Homo sapiens: one gene and its partners. The protein of the gene in region 5 purifies or fractionates together with the protein of the main gene of each other region. This does not show direct contact. Each region holds a gene or a part of one and is shown on either strand. Other genes may lie near its edges.

What was found.
Region 1: the proteins of GNPDA1 (region 5) and ACCS purify together in Homo sapiens (affinity purification with mass spectrometry; 2 studies listed by BioGRID and IntAct, with this or other methods). This does not show direct contact.
Region 2: the proteins of GNPDA1 (region 5) and TANGO2 fractionate together in Homo sapiens (co-fractionation; one large-scale study listed by BioGRID). This does not show direct contact.
Region 3: the proteins of GNPDA1 (region 5) and FAM174A purify together in Homo sapiens (co-immunoprecipitation; one large-scale study listed by IntAct). This does not show direct contact.
Region 4: the proteins of GNPDA1 (region 5) and UBE2R2 fractionate together in Homo sapiens (co-fractionation; one large-scale study listed by BioGRID). This does not show direct contact.
Region 6: the proteins of GNPDA1 (region 5) and UBA6 fractionate together in Homo sapiens (co-fractionation; one large-scale study listed by BioGRID). This does not show direct contact.
Region 7: the proteins of GNPDA1 (region 5) and LGALS9 purify together in Homo sapiens (co-immunoprecipitation; one large-scale study listed by IntAct). This does not show direct contact.

Annotation. Positions count from the first base shown.
Region 1 is NC_000011.10:44,065,048-44,069,069, reverse strand, and holds the start of ACCS (1-aminocyclopropane-1-carboxylate synthase-like protein 1), read right to left. Parts: upstream 2,801-4,022; 5' UTR 2,369-2,800; exon of another isoform or gene 2,077-2,368; coding exon of another isoform or gene 1,774-2,076; intron 1,443-1,773; coding exon 1,155-1,442; intron 1-1,154. UniProt on the Homo sapiens protein: Does not catalyze the synthesis of 1-aminocyclopropane-1-carboxylate but is capable of catalyzing the deamination of L-vinylglycine.
Region 2 is NC_000022.11:20,027,610-20,031,109, reverse strand, and holds part of TANGO2 (transport and Golgi organization protein 2 homolog), read right to left. Parts: intron 1-3,500. UniProt on the Homo sapiens protein: May be involved in lipid homeostasis.
Region 3 is NC_000005.10:100,580,374-100,583,807, reverse strand, and holds part of FAM174A (membrane protein FAM174A precursor), read right to left. Parts: intron 2,462-3,434; coding exon of another isoform or gene 2,443-2,461; exon of another isoform or gene 2,404-2,442; intron 1-2,403.
Region 4 is NC_000009.12:33,823,660-33,827,159, reverse strand, and holds part of UBE2R2 (ubiquitin-conjugating enzyme E2 R2), read right to left. Parts: intron 1-3,500. UniProt on the Homo sapiens protein: E2 ubiquitin-conjugating enzyme that accepts ubiquitin from an E1 ubiquitin-activating protein, and catalyzes its covalent attachment to other proteins by an E3 ubiquitin-protein ligase complex.
Region 5 is NC_000005.10:142,003,028-142,006,527, forward strand, and holds part of GNPDA1 (glucosamine-6-phosphate deaminase 1), read right to left. Parts: intron 3,300-3,500; coding exon 3,117-3,299; intron 2,090-3,116; coding exon 1,905-2,089; intron 236-1,904; coding exon 61-235; intron 1-60. UniProt on the Homo sapiens protein: Catalyzes the reversible conversion of alpha-D-glucosamine 6-phosphate (GlcN-6P) into beta-D-fructose 6-phosphate (Fru-6P) and ammonium ion, a regulatory reaction step in de novo uridine diphosphate-N-acetyl-alpha-D-glucosamine (UDP-GlcNAc) biosynthesis via hexosamine pathway.
Region 6 is NC_000004.12:67,621,156-67,624,655, forward strand, and holds part of UBA6 (ubiquitin-like modifier-activating enzyme 6), read right to left. Parts: intron 3,099-3,500; coding exon 2,971-3,098; intron 2,068-2,970; coding exon 1,980-2,067; intron 1,771-1,979; coding exon 1,676-1,770; intron 1-1,675. UniProt on the Homo sapiens protein: Activates ubiquitin by first adenylating its C-terminal glycine residue with ATP, and thereafter linking this residue to the side chain of a cysteine residue in E1, yielding a ubiquitin-E1 thioester and free AMP.
Region 7 is NC_000017.11:27,629,710-27,633,987, reverse strand, and holds the start of LGALS9 (galectin-9), read right to left. Parts: upstream 2,801-4,278; 5' UTR 2,723-2,800; coding exon 2,684-2,722; intron 1-2,683. UniProt on the Homo sapiens protein: Binds galactosides. Has high affinity for the Forssman pentasaccharide. Ligand for HAVCR2/TIM3. Binding to HAVCR2 induces T-helper type 1 lymphocyte (Th1) death.

The DNA of each region.
Region 1 (4,022 bases), on a different chromosome or scaffold from region 5:
TCAAATGTTCATCTTATTAAAATAGCCTTCTGTGACCTCCTTCTACTAAATAGCAACATCCCCAGCCCACCCATCTTTCTCTGTCTTCTTTAACCTGGTTTATTTTTCTCTATAGTACTCACCACCATATAGTATACATATATTTTCTCTGTTCATTCACTGTTTGTCTCCCTAACTAGAATATGAGCTCTATGAGGATAAGAACTTTGTTTCTGTTCACATCTACATGGTAGATGCTCAACAAATAAAGATTATTAAAGGGTTATTTGTAACAGCTTTCTGACTTCTGAAGGCATTATGAGAATAGCTTATATTTGGGACAGAAAATAATAATAGCAGCTATCATTTATTGAGTAGCACTGTGCTAAAAACTTCATATACTTGCTCTCATTTAATCTTGACTCTTCTACACAACAGGTATTATTATCCCATTTTATTTTATTTTTGTTTGTTTGTTGTTATTTTGAGATAGGGTCTCACACCGTTGCCCAGGCTAGAATGCAGTGGCATGATCTTGGCTCACTATAGTCTCAACCTTCCAGGTTCAAGCAATCCTTCCACCTCAGCCTCCCCAGTAGCTGGGACCACAAGTGCACGCCACCACACCCTGTTAATTTTTTTATTTTTACCTTTTTGTAGTGATGGGGTCTTGCTATGCTGCCCAGGCTGGTCTCAAACTCCTGGCCTCAAGTGTTCCCTCTGCCTCAGCCTCCCAAAGTGCTGGGATTACAGGCATGAACCACCATGCTTGGCCTTATTATCTCATTTTAGAGATAACTTAAGATTCAAGGAAGTTAAGTAACTAGCTCAGCAACACACAACCTATAAGTAAAACAGTTGCAACCTGAACCTTAGTTCTGCCCTAGCTCTAAAGTTGGATAGTCGACAGGTCGTGGGTCAGAATCCATAGAACATCATATGGTTCTTGAATTCCTCCCTCAGAAATCAAGGTCCCCTATATTCTAAATGGACCATTTCCTGATCCAGGCAGTACACTGGGGCCTCTCTAAGCTACATCAGAAGCCCTCTTGGAGGTCAGAGTACCATAACTCCAACCTCATAAGAGCAGGCTGGATGCTGCCTTATTGGTCAAGGTAGGGTACCCCACCCTGCAGTTCTCTCTTGGGTCCCAGTGGGAGGGGAGCTTCACTCACACTGGGGTTCTTGTCCTCATCATACTCATCCATGTGGTAGGTCCTGTAGCCCTCCTCAGCTGAATCCCAGAACCATTTAATCATTCTTCCTCTAGAGGACAGGTAGGAGGTATCAGAGGAGATCATGGCAGGATCACCCACTCCACGGAGCTCTGGCAGCTTCTGGTCCAGTTTTCTGGAGCATTCTCCTTCCAGATCTTCCCCATGGCTACTGCCCAGGTCCTGCATGCAGGTGGGGCCCAGACAGGTGGTGGGAGCCCTGAAGTCCTTTTGAGGAAGGGTGAACATCTGCAAAAAGACAAAACGCACAGGCCTGCTCAAGGGATTTCCATAGCACCAAGCATCAGAAAGGAGTTGGAGTCATGGGAGTCCCCTTTCTCTTATCTGCCCCTTCCTTTAGGTTTATGCACTCATCACTTCCTGTGTCCCTTAGCTGTAACCATATGTGCAACGACTTCAACAAGAAAAATCTGTTAAGGACCTAGTACGTGCCAGGGACTGCACTTGCCACATTGACGTGACTTTAATGTATTGCTGCTTTAGCGTGTTCTACTTCTGCAAAAGTTTTTCACTCTCCAGCCTAAGGGGTCATCAACATTCTTTTTCCACCCTTGCTCACCTCAATTACCAAATGCCAGGTTAAAATTTCCTGAGTTAAAGCAGAGTATTGCCTGGGAGTCCTGGGGGTCTTGTGGTGTAAAGGGTAGGATGAGATTATGTGGTGTTCTGAGGCAGATGGCGGGTAGGAACTGAGGGAAGGGAGGAATGGGAACCTCCACAAGTGCAGGCAACCCAGGCAGAGCTCCAGGGCCTGCCTCTTCAGTCCTGAAGAAACGAGGTGTGGACACCAAGGAGAGGGTGGTCTACTCCTGCCCGCGGGTGTGAACTCCTTCACTTCTCTAAGCCAGTTTAGTTTCCTCATCTGCACAGTGGATATAACAGTAACCACCTCGGGGTGGCCGTGAAGACATAAATATATATGTTAGTGACAATAAAGTACTTAGAACAAATCCTGGCTGATGACCAAAGTTCAATAAAATATGAGTCATTATAGCGTAACTCCTTGCCAATTTTCCCAGTCCTGATGCACAACACAAGCTCTGGTAACACTGGGCGCACCATAAACTCAGCGGGTACCCGCAGTTAAATTTTCCTCCGCAAAGTCTTCTCAGGGGTACTCTTTAAATTGGCTGGGCTCTCCCAAGAGCGCTCACCTCCAGCTCTCCCGACAGCCCAGGTCCGAGGAAGGGCAGCACAGTGGGCGGAAGCCGGGGTGGGAGTAAAGCCTGGGGTAGGGGGGCGGCGGGGTTCGAGCCTCCAGGCGTCCAGCAGGACGGCGGCGAATCCACAGCCAGATACCCGCACTCGATGAGGCCTTGGAATCCCGCAAGTGGGGCGGCTACCGCGCACGAAGAACCGAAACGGCCTTCTACAGGGCGGAGGACGTCTCGCGAGAGACGGCTCCAGGTTTCCAGGCAGAGGAAGTGTGATCGGCGCCAAGGGATTCGAGATGGAAGGGCAGAGGCTTTTGCAAAGTGCACAGAGGGAGGCCTGAACGGCTTCCTCCTCTGCAAAGTAGTGGATCCCACCTACTTGGCGGAGCTGGAGGAGGCGGTGCTGGCACTCGGTGGGCGCCCATCACGTGTAGGTTTTCTCCGCCCGGAAACGCCCTGCGGCGACTTACGCGTGGGTGAGGACAGCGCCCCCCTGCGCTCAGCGCGCCCGGACTAGGAGACTGAGGGCGGTCCGCACCGGGTTGGGCTTCCAGGCCTGTTCAGGGCGCAGTTCGTCCCCTTGCCACTCAGGCGGGGGCGGTCTCGGCGGGGACTACGCTTTAAGGGTGGCACACGAGGTAGCACCGCGGGACCAGGAAAAGGGAAAGGGGCGTAATGCCGTTTCCCACCTCCACTCTGGGTGGCCTGCGCGTGCTGGGCCGCCGCCGGGCCGGGTCTGCCACCTCCTTCTGCCTCCTGGCCTTGGTTCTCCAGTTTTCAAAGGAGGTTAGAGCCACAGAAATTTCTTGCCAAAGTATGCTTGGCTGCGGCCCACACAAAGGGCTTTTTAGATTCGGGTGTGAGCATCCTTATGGCCTTTCATCGCAGTTTGTCATTTCTGCCCCTTTCATTTGTAGGGGATTTTCTGTAGCCCTCATAGGTTCTTAGTTGGGGGAGACTCCTGTTACAAAAGACAAATTAACAAGAGAAAAACAGACAGAAATTTACTGACATGTGTATTTCATTTATACATGAGAAATCTGGAGGGAATGAGTCGTTCTGGAAGAGGTGACTTTGAATTCCAGTTTTTATAGCATCTTCAACAAAGAACAGTAATTTTTTTAAGTTACAAGACAAAGAAATAGGGCTTTGAGTCTCTCCAGGAGGCAACTTGTGAGAAGGCAAAAAAAAAAAAAAAAAAAAAAGACAAAGGCCAGTTAGTCAAGCTTGTTAATGTAAATTCCTCTGGTACCATCTCCAGGCCATAGGGGTCTAAAGTTGTCTTTGTTCTCCTAGGTAGACAGAGGGACAGGATACCTTTTGTCTTTGTAAACCTGTGTCCTACTTTTAGGCAAATAGGGCCAGGGTAGAGAGCTTTCCTGAATGTGCTGCTGCTTGTCTTTAGCACAATCCTTCATGTTTTGGGGAGGCATGTCCTGGTCTCCCACACGTGCCTGCAATATTTGTTGAACTCTGGCTAGGTGTGGCGGCCCACGCCTGTAATGCCAACACTTTGAGAGGACAAGGTGGGAGCATCCCTTGAACCCAGGAGTTTGAAACCAGCCTGGGCAACATAGAGAGACCGTGTCTCTACCAAAAAAAGGTTTTTATGTTTTTTTGTTTTTTTGAGACGGAGTCTCGCTCTGTCATCCAG
Region 2 (3,500 bases), on a different chromosome or scaffold from region 5:
TCTCCTGCCTCAGCCTCTCAAATAGCTGGGACTAGAGGTGCGTGCCATCACACCCAGCTAATTTTTGTATTTTTAGTAGAGATGGGGTTTCACCATGTTGGCCAGGATGGTCTCGATCTCCTGACCTTGTGACCCACCCACCTTGGCCTCCCAAAGTGCTGGTATTACAGACATGAGCCACCACGCCTGGCCCTAATTTTTAAATTTTTTTGGAGAGGTGGGGTCTCATTATGTTGCCCAGGCTATTCTCAAACTCATGGGCTGAAGTGATCTTTCCACCTCAGGAAGTCTTAATGACTGGGTAGTATAAGTGACATCCTTTTAAAAAATTTTACAGCAACTGCTGGTTGGGCGAGGTGGCTCACGCCTGTAATCCCAACACTTTGGGAAGCCAAGGCGGGTGGATCACCTGAGGTCAGGAGTTTGAGGCCAGCCTGGCCAACATGGTGAAACCCCATCTTTACTAAAAATACAAAAATTATCACGCCTGTAATTCCAGCACTTTGGGAGGCCAAGGTGGGTGGATCACGAGGTCAAGAGTTCGAGACCAGCCTGGCCAATATGGTGAAACCCTGTCTCTACTAAAAATACAAAAATTAGCCGGGCGTGGTGGCGGGCGCCTGTAGTCCCAGCTACTTGGGAGGCTGAGACAGAAGACTTGCTTGAACCCAGGAGGCAGAGGTTGTAGTGAGCCAAGATCGTACCACTGTCCTCCAGCCTGGGCAACAGAGCAAGACTCCATCTCAAAAAACAAACAAACAAACAAACAAACAAATTAGCCAGGTGTGGTGGTGCGTGCCTATAATCCTAGCTACTGAGGAGGCTGAGGCAGGAGAATCACTTGAACCCACGAGGTGGAGGTTGCAGTGAACCGAGATCGTGCCATTGCACTCCAGCCTAAGAGACAAGAGGGAAACTCCATCTCAAAAAAATAAAAATTAAAAAAAAAAAAAAAAAAAGCAACTGCTTACACGAGAATGCCCTCTTTACAAGAGTCCTGGTGCACCCTGGGAAGGAAATGCGCTGGAGTGTGAGGCACTGGTTCTCTGGTCATACGGAGCGGCTGGCCTGTACCACTGCCTCCTGGAGCACATAGGGACTTGGTAGACAAGCAAGGGACGAAAGGATGTGCGTCGTGAGGCTCATCCATATCTGAGAAAGTCCAGCTCCTCTCACACAGATGTGACAAAAGAGGTCGCCTTTGTGATGGTCAACACTTAACCACCCCCAGTAGAGTGCCATCTCCAGTTGGGCCAGGCACCCTGCCTCCCTGCAGCCCAGACAGCTAGAGTGAATGCCCAGGGGACATGCACAGCCTCTGTGCAGGGAGGCCGGGGAACTAATCACTTGGGACTTTGGTGTGGTCTTTGCCAACCCTGCCAGGGAGGTAAGAGGGGGACAGTCACTGTGAGCTCACCATGTGACTGCAAATGCCACCAGCCTCAGCAGGGACAGAGCACAGGCCTCTTCCAGGGAGGAAGTTCCCCCCACACTCCTGGAGTCCCTCAACACCCCCAAGCCTGGCCAGAGGATCTATGAGATATGAATGGAAAGAGAGAGCCCTCTTCACACCGCAGCCAAGGGCTTCCCGTCCTCTAAGAATACCAGTGCGGGTGGAATTCTTCCCAGAATCCCAGCATACGTTCCCCTAGCCTAACAACCTGGTAATTCTGCAAAACAGGAAGAAAGCCTGGACTTGGCATGGGTTATTCTTAGAGCATGGCGCTGTCTGTGAAGGACGGAAGCTTTCCAGGCACTCTGGGCCCATCTGCTGATGCTTTCGAGAACTCTCCCAGCGTGCACCGTCCTCTCTGCCCACCTTCTGCTTCTGAGAGCCACCCCGCTCTAGAATCCCCTCTCCAGCCTAGGGCTCCTCCCCTGGCTTCTCAGAGAAACCAACAGGGCCTTCTGTCCTAAGGCCAAATGGAAACGGGCTAAACTCCCTCTCTAAGAAGAATGAGACTCCAGTTGAGGCAAGCCCCAAACCTCACTCCATGCGGTGTCTAAAAAAGGCACGACAAGAAAACCATTCAGACAGAACGCCTGGGCAAAGATGGGCCAGAGCCACAGGCAGAGAGCAGCAGCAGCAGTGACCCCAGCCAGGGCTGCGTGGGGACAAGGTCTGGCACCCTGATGGATGCGCACATGGCCTGCTGCCTGGCAGTGAGGATCTGCTTCCCTGGCTCTCAGTGCCCACCACAGGCAGGTAGGTGGGGTGGAGGGTGGGCAGTAACCTTGCAGAGGCCCATGGGGAAAAGAAGCAAGGGGGACGAGGGCCATGCTGACAGGGCCTCAAATGGAGGACCCAGTGGGGAACAGGCAGACCTCAGTGCTGCAGGGCAAATCCAGGCCACCCTCCTGCATGTCCCAGAACCCACTACTGCCAGCCTCCCCTTCTGAGGAGGCCAACAGGCATCAGGCATCTGACCGTGCCAGTCGCCCACCCCACACCAACCAGCACCACCTCCACTAGCTTTTGTATAATACCAAGAAACGCTGGTCCCTCCCATACGCTGCCTGTTCATTCACCCTCTATTCAGCCTCTCTGTGCCCCAGCCTAAGGCTGAGTCTCCTGTAGCCACGACTGGCAGCTCTGGAGGCTGGTGGGACCCATAGTTGTTAATACCATCGCTCAGGTCACCCAGGAGCACATTCTGGAGGGAAACATTTCCAGTGACATTTAACGGGCCAAAGCCCCATCCCTTCAGGGCTCATGTCTGTCATCCCAGCACTTTGGGAGGCTAAAGCAGGAGGATTGTTTGAGGCCAGGAGTTTAAGTCCAGCCTGTGAAACACAGCAAGTCCCTGTCTACAAAAAGCAAATAAAAACAATTAGCCAGGTGCAGTGGCATATGCCTGTGGTCCCAACTACTTGGGAGGCTGAGGTAGGAGGATGGCTTGAGCCTAGAAGATCAAGGCTGCAGTGAATTATGATCATGTCACTGCACTTCCGCAACACAGCAACAGAGGGAGACTCTGTCTCAATATAATACTAATAATATAATAAAATAAGGTAGGGTGCAGTGGCTCATGGCTGTAATCCCTGCACTTTGGGAGGCTGAGGCGGGCAGATCATTTGAGGTCAGGAATTCAAGACCAGCCTGGCCAACACGGTGAAACCCGGTCTCTACTAAAAATACAAAAATTAGCCAGGCATGGTAGTGCAGGCCTGTAATCCCAGCTACTCAGGAGGCTGAGGCAGGAGGATCACTTGAACCCAGGAGCCGGAGGGCGCCGTGAACCGAGATTGTGCCACTTCACTCCAGCCTGGGTGACAGCGCGAGACTCCGTTTCAAAAAAGTAAAGTAAAATAAAATAAATAATAATAAAATAAAATTAGCCGAGCATGGTGACATGCATCTGTAGTCCCAGCTACTCAGGAGGCTGAGGCAGAAGGATTGCTCGAGCCCAGGAGTTTGAGGCTGCAGTGAGCTATGATAGCACCACTGCACTCCAGCCTGGGTGACAAGGCAAGACTCTGAGTCTCAAAAAAAAAAGGAA
Region 3 (3,434 bases), about 41 Mb from region 5:
TGAAGATGCTGCTATTTTATTGAAAAAGACTTGAGAGCCATCAAGTGCAAAACAGTAAGTTCTGCTGGAGGAAACTGTTTCAAGATGTTGCACATGACTTCACAGGATTTACAATAGAGCCAATCAAGGAAATCATGAAAGAAACTGTGGATATTGCAAAAAAAAAAAATCGGTAATAAAAGATGTCAAGATGAGGATCTTGGAGTAATTCAAGAGCTAACTGACATTACAATGGAACAATGAACAGAAAATGACTTGATGGAGATGAGTGCTTCTGAACCAGTGCCACATGATAAGGAAGAAGATGTAGAAGAAGCTGTACCAGAAAACAAATTGGCAGTAGTCAATGTGGCAGAAGAATTCCAATTATTCAAGACTGCTTTCAACTTCTTTTATGACATGGACCTTTCTATGATATGGACACTAAAACTAAAGCAAGCTGTGGAAGAAGAATTGGTACCAATAGAAACAGTTTTAGAGAAATCAAAAGGCAAAAATCTCAGATGTGTTTCTGTAAAGTTACACCAAGTGTGCCTGCCTCCCCTTCCACCTGCTTCAACTCTTCTGCCTCTACCACCCCTGAGACAGCAAGATCGGCCCCTCCTTCCTCCTTCTCTTCAGCCTACTCAACGTGAAGACAAGGATGAAGACCTTTATGAGATCTACTTTCACTTAATGAACAGTAAATATATTTTCTCTTCCTTATGATTTTCTTAGTAACATTTTCTTTTCTTTAGCATGCTTTGTTGTAAGAATAGAGTATATAATACATATAACATACAAAATACATGTTAATTGACTGTTCATGATATTAGTAAGTCTTCCAGTTAACAGCAGGTTATTAGTAGTTAAGTTTTTGGGGAGTCCAAAAATTACACGTGGATTTTTGACTGTGTAGTTGGTGCCCCTAGCCCCCATGTTATTCAAGAGCCAACAACAGTTATTCATTTCTATGGTTCCTATAAATACAGTTATTTGTTCCTATTTCTAACCTTCAGAAATGAGGATTACTAAAGCTACAAGCTACTAGGTATAATCTATAAAACAATCAATGCTTTGGAAATTTATAATACGGTAACAAAAATTATCCATACTAAAGACAAGATTTCCAATAAACACTACAATGGGGCAAGTTTGCCCATTTACTCTCTTATTGCCTAACTAGTTTATTATAATATAAAACTATATTTTGACATACAAATTTTTATAGATTTTAATTCTAATTATACAACTTTACTACTACTTAATTTAAATCCTGCCTTCCAAAAATATTTCTGCTAGTAAGAGCCATCGTAATGAAAAGCATTTGATCAAACCAAATTAAAAAAAAAAACAAAATGTGCATATTTTACAAACTTAATAAATCTTCCTTTATAATCATCAATAACATTTAGAACTTCATTGGAAAAACATCTGAAAATGAATAATGCTCTTTTTCATCTTATCTGAATCTTTAGTCAGCAGTCTGTAATAGTTCTCTAAATGATTAGTATAAGATAATGAGGTTCTAATATATTTTTACTTTGAAAGTAAATTTAATCCTTTAAAAAATATACTGAAGGTTATTAAAAAAAAACATGTAACACTTAGAATTCTTTTGTACAGCCCTTGTCCTTTTAACGCTTGAAACCCATGATAATACTGATAATGAATTTGTAGACTATGAAAAAAAGTCAATCTGTAAAATCAAAATTGCAGTTTCATAAACTAGGAGAACACAAAATTACTAGAACCTAATCCAAATTCTATCACTAAATAGCCTTTTGAACTTGACTATATATGAGACCCTGAGGAATATCTAAAAGATTTTTTTCAAATAGAAAATTACCTACCACATAAAGAGTCTCTTAAGATATGGTTTCAGAAAGGCGTTTTGAGACTCGTAATTAACCTCAAAACATATGCAAATTAGCATAACTATTATGATCTAGCAATCATATTACATTGTGCCCAACATTTCCTTGAACCTGTTTATATTTATAAGACTGTATGACCAGCTCTCTCATTTAGAGTATTTCATTCCTTGAGTGGGAATTTCCTCAGAATTCTATTCTGGATGTTTTCATGCTGTTCAGGGGCTACTGTAGGAACCACCACTCCCCACTCCCTCCCTGGCATGACTCAACCACGACCAAATGTAATATTGAAGAAGGCATTCTTATTTATATGCCCAATTGGAATTATTTTTAACTTATCAAGAATTAAGCCAATTCTCTTCCAGCCTTAAGCATGGTCTTCCAGCCTTAAGCGAGGTCTTGAATTCCAGACCTCAAGTGATCCGCCCACCTTGGCCTCCCAAAGTGTTGGGATCACAGGCATGAGCCACCATGCTGGGCCTTCATAGGCTCTTATTTGATTAACTTATATCTTTAAAAAAATAACTTTAACTCAATTGCCACCTACTCAGTGAAATCCATGTTGCTATCCCTCAGTTGCTCTTTCTCAGGAATTCCACAGCAGTCTGAAAAAAGTGGAGAATCAATATGGTATGAGAAAAGTAGCTAAGGATTCCTACTCTCTGGAGAGGTGATATAGAAGTTGTAGAAGGTAGACTGGTTGACTCAAAAAAAATGCCGCAGGCCTTGTGCAGTGGCTCACGCCTGTAATCCCTGCACTTTGGGAGGCCCGGGTGAGTGAATCACCTGCAGTCAGGAGTTCGAGACCAGCCTGGCCAACATGGTGAAACCCCGCCTCTACTAAAAATACAGAAAATTAGCCTGGCATGGTGGCAGGCACCTGTAATCCCAGCTACTTGGGAGGCTGAAGCAGAAGAATCGCTTGAACCCGGGAGGCAGAGGTTGCAGTGAGCTGAGATCACGCCATTGTAGTCCAGCCTGGGCAACGAGAGCCAAAATCTATCTCAAAACAAACAAACAAACAACAAAAACAAACAAACAAACAAACTCTGCAACAGAACCAGGAGTACACGGTATAATCTTAGTGGGTCTGTTAACAGGACGCTCTTTTGGCAAGAATGGCAGGGATAGAGGCTGTGCTCCAAAACCAAGCAGGACAAGCTATCCCTCAGCTGTGGCCAGCAAAGATAGAAGACTGCAAGTGTGATGGTTAATACTGAGTGTCAACTTGATTGGACTGAAGGATACAAAGTATTGATCCTGGGTATGTCTGTAAGGGTGCTACCAAAGGAGATTAACATTTGAGTCAGTGGACTCAGAGCGGCAGATCCACTCTTAATCTGGGGTGGCACAATCTAATCAGCGCCAGCATGGCTAGAATATACGCGGCAGAAAAATGTGAGAGACTGGCCTAGCCTCCCAGCCTACATCTTTCTCCTGTGCTGGATGCTTCCTGTCGTCGAATATCGGACTCCAAGTTCTTCAGTTTTGGAACTCGGACCTGCTTTCCTTGCTCCTCAGCCTGCACATGGCTTATTGTGGGACCTTGTGATCGTGTGAGTTAATACTTAGTAAATT
Region 4 (3,500 bases), on a different chromosome or scaffold from region 5:
ACAGCGTCAAAAAATAATAATAATAATAAGACAATAACCAAAACCTTTTTATTTTTTTTTGAGGCAGAGTCTCACTGTCGCCCAGGCTGGAGCGCAGTGGCGCGATCTCGGCTCACTGCAGCCTCCGCTTCCTGGGTTCAAGCGATTGGCCTGGGTTCAAGAGATTCTCCTGCTTCAGCCTCTCGGATAGCTGGGACTACAGGTTCACGACATCATGCCTGGCTAATTTTTGGATTTTCAGTAGATGTGGGGTTTCACCACGCTGTCCAGGCTGGTCTCGAACTTCCGAGCTCAGGTGATCTGCCCACCTCTGCCTCCCAAAGTGCTGGGTAAAAATTATAATCGTGAGCCACTGCACCCACCCAATAACCAAAACATTTTTATATGTATTTGTTACTAAATCAAATAAAGGTGTTTAAAGTGGACTATTCACTTTTCTTTTTTTTTGGAGGGGGCGGCAGGGGACAGAGTCTCACTCTGTTGCCCAGACTGGAGTGCAATGGCGTGATCTCAGCTCACTGCAACCTCTCCGCCTCTGGATTCAAGCCATTCTCCTGCCTCAGCCTCCCGGGTAGCTGGAACTACAGGCACGTGCCACCATGCCCTGCTAATTTTTTGTAGTTTTAGTAGAGACGGGGTTTGACCGTGTTAGCCAGAATGGTCTCAATCTCCTGGCCTCGTGATCCGCCTGCCTCGGCCTCCCAAAGTGCTGGGGTTACAGGCGTGAGCCACCACTCCTAGCCACTTTGCATCTTAAATACATATTCCAACACCTGAATTTTCCAATTATCATGTGGAAGATCATTTAAGTAACATCAAACCTTGGTGATGTGAACTAAATTTACCTCTTCAACTTAGTATCTATCATTCCATTCACTTCAGAGTCAACTAATTTTGAGGTACATAAGCATAATCTCTGAATAACAATTTCTTGCTGAATAAAGTTGATATTAACACAATCAAAGAGGTTAAATTTTACTCAGGAATCTCTGTAGGATTTTTTTTTTTTTTTTTGAGACAGAGTCCCATTCTGTTGCTCAGGCTGGAGTGCAGTGGCACAAGATTTTGGCTCACCGCAAACCTGCACCTCCTGGGTTCAAGCGATTCTCCTGCCTCAGCCTCCCAAGTAGCTGGGACTACAGGCGCATGCCACCACACCCGGCTACTTTTTGTATTTTTAGTAGAGATGGGGTTTCACCATATTGGCTATGCTGGTCTTGAACTCCTGACCTCAAGTGATCTGCCCACCTCCGCCTCCCAAAAGTGCTGGGATTACAGGTGTGAGCAGGCATGAGCCACTGCATCCAACCAACTCAGATATCTCTGTAGTCGTATGTGAAGCAGTTCAAAAGAAGTTCAGAAACATAAAAGAATTAAACCTTTTCAATATAATCTTTAAGCAAGATGGAAATCTGTAGTCCTAAACTCTGAATTTATACCTTTTCCTCACTGTTATTTTTCCATAACTAGATTATCAGAGGTAGCCTAATTTGCTGGATGGTCTCCTTTCTCTCACGTGTCTCCAACTGACCATTAAGTTGGAAAGATGGAACAGAACATTTTATCATTATGTTGAAAAATGGTCTAACTAGCCTTAAAGCTTTAAAAGCTTTGCTTTTGGACAGGTGTGGTGGCTCATGCCTGTAATCCCAGCACTTTGGGAGGCCGAGGTGGGTGGATTACCTGAGGTCAGGAGTTTGAGACCACCCTGACCAACATGGTGAAACCCCATCTCTACTAAAAATACAAAAATTAGTCTGGCATGGTGGCACACGCCTGTAGCCCCAGCTACTCGGGAAGCTGAGGAGGAGAATTGCTTGGACCCAGGAGATGGAGGCTGCAGTGAGCCAAGATTGTACCACTGCACTCCAGCTTGGGTAACAGAGACTCTGTCTCAAAAAAAAAAAAAAAAAAAGCTTTGCTTTTATGAAGATCATTCTTTTTGTTTTTGTTGTTTGCCTCCCAAAGTGCTGGGATTACAGGCGACCGCCTGGCCGATCATTCTTAAAAGCTCTAAGGTTATCATTGTCCTAATACTTTCACTTACTATCTTTAAGGAAGTGACTTTTCCTACAATTTGCTTTTCCTTTAATGAGTCCTCAATAAAAATTTTTCCTGACACAAAAGGTGAAAAAAGGAGAATCAACGCAGAGTATTAATTAGGACCTAAATCCTTCAATCCAGGAAGAAATAATCCTTATTTTAGCAAATCTATGACATTGAAACTGGTATTTAAAAAAAAATTTACCAAAAGATTTCAATGAAATGGTCTCTCACAACTAGGTTATAAGTACCACTTGGCTGATGGCAATTACAAGACTTCATGGATTCCAAGAATTTTTTTTTTTTTTTTTTTTGAGACAGAGCTTCACTCTGTTGCCCAGGCTGGAGTACACTGGCATGATCTAGGCTCACTGCAGCCTCCACCTCTTGGGTTCAAGCAATTCTCCTGCCTCAGCCTCCCAAGTAGCTGGGACTGCAGGTGCGGACCATCACACCCGCTAATTTTTTTTTTTTTTTTGAGACAGAGCCTCGCTCTCTCGCCCAGGCTAGAGAGCAGTGCCTCGATATCAGTTCACTGCAAGCTCCGCCTCCCGGGTTCACGCCATTCTCCTGCCTCAGCCTCCCAAGTAGCTGGGACTACATGTGCCTACCACCATGCCTGGCTAATTTTTTTGTATTTTTTTAGTAGAGATGGGGTTTCACCACGTTAGCCAGGATGATCTCCATCTCCTGACCTCGTGATCCGCCCGCCTCGGCCTCCCAAAGTGCTAGGATTACAGGCATGAGCTACCGCGCCCGGCCCACACCAGCTAATTTGTGTATTTTTAGTGGAGACCGGGTTTCACCATGTTGGCCAGGCTGGTCTTGAACTCCTGACATCAGGTGATCCACCCGCCTCGGCCTCCCAAAGTCCTGGGATTACAGGAATGAGCCACCACACCTGGCCATCTAAGAAATTTCTTAATCAAAAAGAAGTTAAAAGGTAGAAAAATATGCATCTTGTAATCAACTAAACAGGATAAAAGCATATTCTATGAAAAACTAAGGCATCATATTTGGTTTGAAAAATGTTCTGAGAAACAACAAAAAGTGAAACTTCATTTAGTTTCCAAAACCCTTAGACCTTAACTGTGTTTCCATTTATAACGTTACCTTAGTTCACCCAGTACTCAAGACAACTTCATCTTCCAGAAAGAGACAGCTAAATGCCCTAAGAGGTAGTTTCAAAGTTAACTGAGAGAAATGGGGGAATAAAAGAGCATTCGTTTTATAATTTTAAAGGAGCTGTTTAAAATTGTCTTTAAGTTGCCTATCCAAATACCTTACAAGAGGATTCTTAGCTCATCGGCAGTAAACCCTCTGAAAAAGATACATAAAATTAGTTTACGTGTACCCATTTTCTCTGAGAAAATTCTTCAATTTCTCAAAAGAATCCCTGTCTCAAAAAGGCAAACAATCATTTTCCTAAAAAAATTTTTTCAGCCAGGCGCGGTGGC
Region 5 (3,500 bases):
TCCTTACTCCTAGCACACCCTAAGCTTGACCACCTCCTCCTGGACCCACACCTCCCTCACCTTTGAAATACTTGACAGTCTTCACTTTCAGCTCCAAGGTGGCATCCTCGTCACACACAAACACGGTGCGGGGATGCTGCTGGAAGGCAGACACGGTCCACATGTGGTTCACTCCCTCCTCGATGGCCTTGTACAGAGCAAATGCCTTGTGAGCACCTGTGATAAGGATCATCACCTGGGGATCAGAAAACAAGTCTGTGATGGAGGGGAGCATTCCAGACACCCTAAACAGTTGTAAGGATGATTGTTTTTCATATCACATTGTAAGTGGTTACCATGCAACATACTTTTGCTCAGTGCTCCCTGTGCTTTATCACACAAATAACCCGAGGCAGGCAGCATCATTATCTCCATCTTATAAGAAAACAGAGCCCCAGGGGGTTAAATAACTTGCCCAGGGTCATTTATGACCCCAAAGTTCATGTTCTTGACTACCACGTGACAGTGCCTCCAGGTATCTTTGATGATGACTATGAAGGTGCCCTGTAAACAGACATGCCATGCCCAGGCCTGCTATCCCATCAGCTGGGTGACTCTACACAAGCACAGTTTGTGAAAGAGGGCTCCCAACCTGCACCACCAGCAAGGGCACTTTGCAAGCAATGGTGGGAGTTATCTGTGGGGCCTCTAAGGCTGAATCCCAGAAAGGTTGCCCCATTATCTGGTCACTTTCAGTTCACAGCATTAAACCTATGAACTAATGTGACTTGGGGTGATGGTTTTTGTTAATATATAATAAAACAAAGGCACAGTCTCCACTTAACAGTTAAAATATCGAGAATGTAAGTGATCTTAAAGAACTCAGCTCTATTCAAGGGCAGGAAAAGAGAAAAAAACTCAGTTCTGTAGATTTCCTTTCATTTTAATTCACATGTGCCACAGAGTTGTGAACAGGATTTACTGTTCCTTTCTTAAAAGATTAGAATGCAGAAGCAGAGAGGGAATGTGACTATTTCTTCCGGACCCCTCAGCAACCCAGAACTCTTTAGAAAAGATAATTTCCTGATTTCCAGCCCCAGGTCCTTTCCCAGATCAAGATGCCCTCATGATAAAGACGGCCCTAAACCTGTTTCCAAGCTGCAGAGCTAAAAACAGCGAGTAAACACCCCCACCCCACGTACTGATTGAAGATTACCCAACAGAAATCTGGGTGCCATCACTCATTTCACAAAAGTTCACTTTAAACAGGGAAGTTTTCACTGATTTAGATGCTTGTTTATTGGCTTGGGCAAAGAAATGTAAATCTAACATGTCTATACACGTCAGAAAGGAAGAGAAAATGCTTCTAAAGTTCTAATGAAAATAAGGAAATTGGAACCACAAAAAATTCACATTCAAATGATAGCCAATTTTTTAGGGGAAAAGCTAAATTCAGTTTAAAACACTTATATTTTAATCATACTTCACCACATTTATTAATCTCTGAGCACGGGGCTAGAAGCACAAGCATCCTTGGTGTCCCAACAGTGACCTCTACCAACTACAAGGAACAAGGGAACCCCTCTCTCCATACCTGGTCAGGTACAAATATTCCAACATTAGCGATGCTGGCCTCCTCTCTGCCTGTGAAAAGCATGAAAGGGGCCTGAGGCCAGAGAGCCTGCTGTCTCAGGCAGTCAGCCAAAGGCACCAAAAACGTGCTCAAGGGATTCACCTCACACTGGGAATAATGATGTCTTCCAAAGACGCAAGAGGAACAGTGAGTAACAGGGTCAGCAGGGATTTTAGCCTTATTTACCATGCCTTCATCTTTAATAAGAATGTAGGTGGTACCAGTATAGTTAAGATTAACAAGAGAAAGACAAGTCCACCAGCGCAAGCTGGTGGGGCCCTTATGCCCTTACCTCTCTAGCATCCATGACAGTGCCCACCCCCACCGTCAAGGCCATGGTGGGCACCTTGGTGAGTTCTCCATCGAAGAACCTAGCATTGGCCAGGATGGTATCCATGGCCAGCGTCTTCACACGGGTCCTGGACACCAGACTGGAGCCTGGCTCGTTGAAGGCAATGTGTCCATCAGGGCCGATGCCTATAGGGAGAGAGCCCGTGCAGCCCTGTCAGTCCCAGGGATCCAAGATTTCAAGAATGGACAATCTCTCCTTCCCTAACTAGGGTCTGAAGAAAAATCATTGAAAGCTGTGTCACCTTTCTCATTTGCAGCCCTGGGCAGGTACACCTTAAACATGTGATCTGTCCCCCTCCCTACCATTTCTTTCTCTTTGCCATACTGTCTCAGAGGAGACCCTCCCCATCATGTCTATCTGAGGCACACACAGACATTGTTAACTTGCTATCACCCTCAAAAAGCTGAGGAGGAAACACTCCAAACAGCTTCTGCCTCCCCAGATTGTCAGAAAAGTGGACCTTCTCTGTCTCTTCTGCCTGTAGTTAGAGGGTCCTGCTGCTGGGATAGAGGTGCAGTGAACAAAACACCCAGAGAACCTGGACAGGGGCTGCCAAGGTTCTAAAATCTCAGAGGATGAGAGGTCCTGCCCCCCTCCTCCCCACCTTGAAGTATAGAAGAGTGATCTCTAGAGCAATAAAAGGCAGTTCAATGTTACCCCTCATGGGTAACTCCAGAGGTGGCGATAGATGGATACACAGAAGGGCAGCCCAGAGGACCCGAGCACAAATCCAAGAAGCACACACTTGCTCCCACCTGTGAACCTTGAGTGAGTCACCTAACTTCTCTGGGGTTCAACTGGCTATCTACAGGGGCTGTGTGGAGCCTTCCGGAACTACATGAGTCCATGATGTTAAATGTTTAGATAAGTTCCAGGACTGATCCATAAAACCTTAAGACTGGGGAGTAGACAGAATCTCAGAGTCCAAACCCAAACCTCTCAGTTTACAGACAAGGCATCAAACTGCAGAAAGAGATCTCCAAGATAACATAGTTCCTGAGTAACAGAGCCAGGCAGGGCCCATTTCTCCCGCCTCTGTCTCTACGGTCACTAGCACACCCAGAAGAAGCTGTCTGCAGACAGGCATTGTGTCTTGTCCTCCTTCCCACGGGTCTGGCCCTGGACATGTGTGCTGCAGAGTGTCAAGCTCACCTCCAACAAATAGCTCGATCCCACCTGCAGCCTTGATCTTCTCTTCAAAGGCATCACATTCTGCCTGTAGGTCGACTGCATTCCCATCCAGAATGTGGGTGTTTTCTGGGTGGATGTCAATGTGCTTGAAGAAGTTGTTCCACATGAAGGAGTGGTAACTCTCCGGGTGGTCTCGAGGAAGGCCTGTGGGGCCGTGAGACACTCGGTTATGCCTAGGCCAAGCCAAAGCCCCTCTCCTAAGAAGGATGCCAGGACACCATGCTGACCTACAGAGACACTCCCAGGGGTCTGCCCATCTGGGAGCCTTAGGCACCAGCCCTCTGACCCCTAGCCACTCGGCACAGGCTGAGCCAGTATCCATAAGTGTCCACCCACCCAGTACCA
Region 6 (3,500 bases), on a different chromosome or scaffold from region 5:
ACACTAGCCTTGCTTGATCCAAAAGATACTGAGGGATCCTAATGAAAAATAATATAAGGCAAATTAATGCCTTAGCTAATAAAATAGTAGTTTTACTTTTTAAGGTACAGATAATTCAGACTAGATCATAATTTAAGAATGATTAACCTCAACTGATTATCATAGTTAAAGCCAATAGATACGTTAAACACAACCATCATGCAGAGATTCATTTACTAGTCTGACAAATATTTGTTGGTAACCTTTTATTTGCCAGGTATTGATCTAAGTGCTTGAGATACAACAGTGACAAGATCAAATAAAGATTCCCACTCTTGTGAAATATATGTTCTAGTAGCAGGTAAATAGCTAATATACAGTACATGGGCCGGGCACAGTGGCTCACGCCTGTAATCCCAGCACTTTGGGAGGCTGAGGCGGGAGAAATCACCTTAGGTCAGGAGTTCAAGACCAGCCTGGCCAACATGGTGAAATCCGTCTCTACTAAAAATACAAAAATTAGCCAGGTGTGGTGTTGGGTGCCTGTCATCCCAGCTATACTCGGGAGGCTGAGGCAGGAGAATCGCTTGAACTCAGGAGGCAGAGGTTGCAGTGAGCTGAGATCGCGCCACTGCAATCCAGCCTAGGCGACACAGTGAGACTCCGTCTCAAAAACAAACAAACAATAAATATAAGCAAAATACACAGCAGCACAGCAGTCATAGGACAGTAATAAGTGCTCTGAAAAAAAGAAAAAGTAGAGAAGAGTAAAGGGGACTAGACATACTAGACTGGGGCTGAGGACAGGTTGCAGTATTAAATGAGGCCTCTTTAGGAAGTGCAAAGACCAGGGGTGAGACTTGGCCAGGTCACTGTCTCAGAGTTACAAGCAGAGGGAACAACTAAAGCAAAGGTCCCATGCTGGAGCATGATTAGAGTGAGTATTCAAGGACAAATAAGGAGGCCAGTGTAGCTGGAATATTGTGAAGGGAAAGTAAGGAAGGAACTTAGAAGGATAACTAGGAATCTAAATTTAGAGTCTTGCAGACCACGATAAAGACTTTAGCTTTCTTTGGTTCTTTCTTCCTTTCAGTCTCTGCTCAAATTCCACCTTAACAGGTGAGACTATGATAGGCAAAGGGAAAACCTAGACTACTCAGTATAATATAGCAACTCAACACCCCCAACTCCCCATATTTCCTTTTCTCTTTATTCTTCTTTAATTTCTCCATAATACTTACTATCACCTAACATACTTGCCTTATTGTTATGCAAACTCCTTAAGTAGGAAAGAACTTTGGTTTGCTAACTGCTATCTCCCTAATGACTAGAATAGTACCTGGCACACAGCTGGCACCTTAAACAATAATTTGTTGAATAAATGAACAAAAATAGTGATTTGGCAGTTAGATTACTCATAAGCCTGGTCATTAAGTGTCTCAACATAAGAGACGGATCCACTTTTACTTAAGTGTACTGGCCAAATCAGGTTTCTAAACCTATTAACTGAAGAGCTGAATCTCTCGAGAGGTAGCCTGTTGGCCTTCACCTGGCAGATTCACTGTCTTTATTAATGTCATTAGACAAGACTAATGCTTTTATCTGAATTATAGTAACCTCTATATTTAATTTTTTAGTGTGCATCAACTTACATTTAAATTCTTGTTAATCGCTGCATATAATGTTGAATACTTACGTTAACTTCAATCTTTTTGCATGACCAGGCATTACAGGAACATAAAGCATTTTGACTCCCTGTACCACCATTGTTGGCTCAATTCCATACTTCTCCTAAAAGTGAATATCCAAAAAAGAAACAATGAAAGCCTCGCTCAAACATAAAATGCTTATTTAACATTGTTCGTAAACAATGTTTTATGACCAGTAAAAAAAGCAAATTCATGGTAAATAATTATAACTTCCAATAAAATTATAAATAAAAACAAAACAGAAACCAGACATAAAGCTACTAATGAACTAAATGAACAAAAGTATCTCACTTTGACTGCATTTATGAAATCCAAGAGGGTGAAATCTTCTTTTCCATGTACGGTCCATCGATCCCAAATTGTAAATGATATTCCATTTCTGTTACAGAAAAATATTCAGAACAGAAACATTGAAATTTTCTTCCTTTTAGTGATGACACACACACAAAAAAAACCCACTTTCAGAAGTCCATTATTTGTGATCAGGCTAGAAATTAATGTGGGGAAATAAAGGATAATATATCTTCTAAAATATTCCATAATCTTATTTCTTCATCACATCATATAGATAACCACTTTTAATCAGTACCTTGCTGATCCTTCCAGTGTATTATAAATCAGTATGTTTTAGCAAGACAGTGTTGTCTCTCTCTTTTTAAAATGGGTTTCACTGTGTGGATGTTCCAGTACCCCATTACTGGACACTTCGGTTATTCTAATCATTGGCCACGATAAATAATGCCAGAATAATTATCTTGCAAATATATAGTTTGAGACTTGTGCAAATGTATCTGAAATATAGTGCTATATATCCCTTACTGTGGATTATAGTATTTTGTACTCTCATTAGTAATGTATGAGAGTGTCTGCTTTCTCACACCCTTGTTAAGGTAGGTTTTTTTTCAAGTTTTTGGTTGTTGCCAATCTGAAAACTAAAAAGTACAGGCCCAGGAATTGTTCTGCTTTGTCTCAAGCTTGTGGAATTCTTCTAAATCTCATGACCTACAGTCAGACACCAGGGTACCTTCTAATTCATCTGGCAGACACAGATGAAACCATAATGCCAAATAATGTGGCAGATAAAGTGCTGTAAGGGTTCTTTGGCTACTTTAGTCAGAAATATTTAATGAAGATGAGGTTTGAGCTGATCTTGAAGTGATGGCAAAAATTTACACATACACAATAGAAGAAAAAAGAGGTGAAGCTAGTATTTTTCCCTTTTAAAAGGTAAAATATTTTATTTCATTCTCATTATACAAGAGAAATAGACTTTCATACATACCTGATTTTAGTTTTCCTTACTTCAGTTGTCTCTGTAAATACTACAATTGGAATGGCTAAGTTAAGAAAACAATTTTTGTAAGCTTCAAATGGATAGCCACCAGTTACTTTGATCATCTCCAAGGCAACCTAGATAAAAGAAGGTGATCTGATAATATAAACAGCCTAAAACTATCCGTGATTTTAATTGCATCTATTCAACTTTCACGTTTTCAAGCATTTCTCTGTGGATAGTAAAAGCAGCTATGGGACTATAGTAATATAAATTTCTTATTACAGGTCTGTATACTTTTAGTATATTTTATACTTTCAAACTTTCAACCTACTCTATACATGTTAACAGTTATTTAAAAAAATATTAATTCAACCATACAGTCTCCCTATTTTGAAAGCACATGCTGTAACTCAAAAAATAACAACAGTCTAAAATCACTTAATACAGGGGTAAATAACTACATAGCTTCATAGATAATTACATAGAGTAATGATGTAATATGGTATAATAACTAGGGCCGCACTTAAAGATTCTGA
Region 7 (4,278 bases), on a different chromosome or scaffold from region 5:
GAGGATGGATTTTCACACTGGATTTATGGTCCCACGGGACTGGGCTTGCCTCCCAGCTCTGTACACTAGCAATTCTGACACTGGCCAAGTCACTTGACCTGCCTGTGCCCCAGTTCCCTCCTCTGAATGGCAGGACAGTAACACCACCCGACAGTGTTCTGGAGAGGACTGGGTGCAACGCTGTGTGCTGAGCCCCTGGCTGGCAGCGTTCTGAGAGGACTGGGTGCGATTCCGTGTGCTGAGCCCCTGGCTCATGTCAGACATGACAGTGCAGCTCTTTGCATTGAACAAATCGATCCCTCTGCTGAGTCATGACTTGCTCTCTGTTCCTGATAGTGCCCAGAGACCGGGGACTTTTCCTCCTCTTCTTATCTGGAAGTCTAGAAAGCAGAGCTGAGCCCTGTGAACCAAAATGTGGGCAGCCTTGTTTTGGACTCAGCATCACCAGAGGACACCCAGGCCCGACCCCGAAGTGGGGAGCTCAGCCTGGCTGGCCAAGACTGCGTGCCAGCAGGAGGCCAGTACGTGGCTCTTAGCCAAGGTGCCCCGCTGCCTCAGAGGCTCCATGGTCCTGCTGGCCACCTTCCATGACACTTTGATTTTAGACTTCTGACCTCCAACACTGTAAGAACAAATGTGTTGTTTTGAGGTTGACCAGCTAAGGCTGCTGTGGCATTTGGATCCATGTGTGTCCATGAGGGCTCTGGGCATGACTAGGAACATTTATCCTCACAGCAACCCCGGCCACTTTTACAGATGAGGAAACTGAGGCACAGAAAAGTTCAGTCACTTGCTCAAAGTTACACAACTGGTCAGCAACAGAGCTGGGATTTGAACCCCAGCACCCACGCTTCTAACCACCACACAGGCTTCCTCTCATGAGTAAGCTGAGAACATCCTTATTCCTGGCTCTCCCAGTGCTTCCTGGACCACACAGCACGTGGTTCCAGCTTCCCCCAGGCCCTCCAAAGAGGCTGGGCTAGATGAGGCCAGACAAGAAGTGGGAGTGAGGTTTCCAAGCCAGGCCCTCATGGCACTCAGCCCTCCTCAGCAGGACAGCGAACCGCGTGACCTTCCCCCACTGTCGGCATGTGGAGGAAGCGTGGCTCCGACTGCCAGATGGGTCACCAAGTGAGGCTTAATTGTCCCAACCCAGGGGAGCCCCCGTGGGGTAGAGGGGTACTCTGGACACCCATAGGGGCTGCACTGATCATCTTTCTTGTCTGGACTCCAAGGCCCTGTTTTAACTCTCTGATGTCCGTAGGATAATTTTCCTTCTGAATCCAAGGATTAGAAAGTAAAAACCAGTCACCAGAATAATAATATGTCAGAACCTGGAAGAAGCTCTGGGATCCCCTCTTTGACAGAAAACCAGAGACAGGGTGACATGCCCAAGGCAGCACCTGCTGACCCTAAGGCCCCCACCAGCGGCCTGTTCCAGCTTCCCCCAGCCCCCTCTGTGCAGGTCCTACCTCAGGGGCCTCCACAGGGTGGCTGAGGTGTCATTGGTGACAGCCAGGAGGAAACAGGCCTCCTTTCCCCATTCTTTCTCTCTGGAGTTTAGAAAGCAGAGCCGAGCTCTGCAGACCAGAACGTAGGCAGCCTCATTCTGGACTCAGTGTCACCAGGGGGCACTCAAGCCCGACCCTGGCCTCTGCTGAGGTGGGCCATGGCAGCTTCCCTCCCTCAGTACCCTGCCTCTGCCCACCCTCCCCACCCTGCCTCCCCACCCAGGAAGGACCCATCAGCCCACCCTCTCCAGCCCCTCGGGAAGCTCTTTGCCAAGGCGGGGTGAGATCCTATGACAGGAGCCGGCCCAGGACACAGTGACCCCTGAAGTCTCCTGGGCTCCTGGGGCTGCCACTCCCATCTGGAGGCATTTGGCAACTGGCCTCTGCCTCCCTGAGCCTCAGATTTTCCGTGTATGAAGGGGACTCATAAACCTCACAGGGTTTCAGCAAGGCACCTGCCGCCCTCTGACCCCACGCTGCAGGGACAGTCCTCACCCCCCTCTCACCTCTGAGACTGCCCCTCCACAGATGCCCTGAACATGCCCATGCCCAACCTTCAGAGCACAGACACCTCCTCGGGAGGTCTTCCCTGCTGCCCTCAGACACCCAATAACATGAAACACTCCCAAAGCACCTACAGTGTGTCAGGCACTGTTCAAACACACTAGATACACTACTTCCTTAATCCATATCCCAACCCTGGGAGTGGGGGGCTCAAGTATTATTCCCACTTCACAGATATGGAAACTGAGGCCCAGAGACCACCAGCCAGTAAATAGCTGGACCCAGGGAGGCCACCTTCACAGTAAGCACCCTTAACTACCATGCCGGGTAGCGTCCTTACTGTCCCAGAAGCGTGCTTGCTTCCTCTTTACATGAACCACCCCGCTCTACATGTCTTCCCCTGAGCACACAGGACAGGACAGGACAGGACAGCTCAGTCAACACTGTCAAAGCCATGACTCGTGGGAAGGAGCATCCCTCCAGGCATGAGTGAGCTCAGCACGGCACAGGTGTGCCAGGATGACCTCCTCTGATATTTCTGCCCTGCTTGTGTTCTCTTTGGGATGCCCCCACCCCCATCCCCTGCCACCCAGGAGTTGCTTCCTCAGAGCCCCAGAGCTGTGTCCCTCTGGCTGAGGCAGCCCTGTGCCCATAGCCCTGGAACTCACTGGACTCAGGTAGGGAGCCTGGGAACCGCTGAAGGCCATCTCTCCGCCGCCTCTGTGGCCACCGCTGCCTTTCACACCCACTAGGAAGTCCTTTGTAGAGGGAACGACTTAACAAAGAAATAGAAACCAAAGCAACTTGGCTGTTATTCAATGGGGAGGAGCCGGCAGCAAAAGGAAGTGGGTCCAGAGAGAGAAAGGTATGGTACTGGGTGGACTGGGGTGACACTCACAGAGGGAAGTAGGCACTCCCAGCCCCAGTGACCTTTCCCTCCTCCCTCTCCTGTGCTCAACCCAAGCCTGAAGCATATTTGGTTCATAGAGGTCTACAATGCTTGACCACACTGACATGACAGCAAGTTGCCAGATGACACTGCCCAGAAGTATGTGGCTGTGTGTCCTAAGCATGCTTGGCCACGGAGTCCAGAAAATAATGGGGCTGGGCATTGCCTGTGCACAGGGTGCTTGTGGGGAAGGGCGGCTTCAACCCATTTTACATACAGAGAAGCTGAGGCTCAGAGTCTAAGGGGCATGCCCCAGGTCACACAGCTAATTCGTGGCCGCCTGAACTTTATGAAGATTCTCAGACTCTTCAAAAAGTATTTCTCCTGTTTAAATTTATATTATTCATGTAAAAACATAATTATGTAGAGGGGAATATTTTGCAAGAAAAACACCATAATGAATATTTTTATTCTACAGTATGGGGTGCCCAGGAGCTTCTGATCCTCCCTCTCAATGAATCTCTCTTGATTCTCTTCTCCTTCTCTTCTCCATCCTTATTTTCTGCACTTTAGGATGAGGAGAGAAGTCTTGGACATGATAGAACATTTCAAGTGACATGGGGCTGGGAAGGAACATATGGCATGTGCAGGTCGTGGGGGAGGGAGCCATGAAATAAACTTACCTGAAGTCGACCAGGTCCCAGCGATGTGCTGGTGAGAAGGCCCAGAACTCAAGCTGGGTAGGGTAAGTGCTGGCAGGTAAGGGCTGTACGGGTGCGAGAGGATGGCAGGTGCCCCAGGGCCATACGTGAGTCTGCACCTCTCTTCCTTCCTGTGCTCCACCTAGATGCACTAGAATTTGCAGACTAATTCCTTTGAGATGCTCCAATAGACTGAGGCCATGTGTGCCATCTGCACTGTCCATCCCCATTATGTTCCTGGATCAAGTACCAGTTTAAGGAGTAGACAGTACAAGGGGAGCAGAAAGGAGAGAAAGGAAGGGAAATTCTTTGCGATCCTCTCGGACACCAGGGACAATTTCATCACGGCACATCATTTGTAGGCAATCACAAATTGATTGCGATACGCAACAACTGGAACTCTCATTCACAGCAGACTGGAGTGTAAAATAATCCAACTTAGAAAAATGGGCAGGGCGTGGTGGCTTATGCCTATAATACCAGCACTTTGAGAGGCTGAGGCAGGAGGATCACTTCAGCCCAGGAGCTTGAGACCAGCTCGGGAAAGGTTGGAAGACCCTGTCCCTACATATAATTTAACAAACAAATTAGCCAGGTGTGGTGGTGCACACCTGTGGTCTCAGCTACATGGGAGGCTGAGGTGGGAGGCTCACTTGACCCCAGGAGGTCAAGG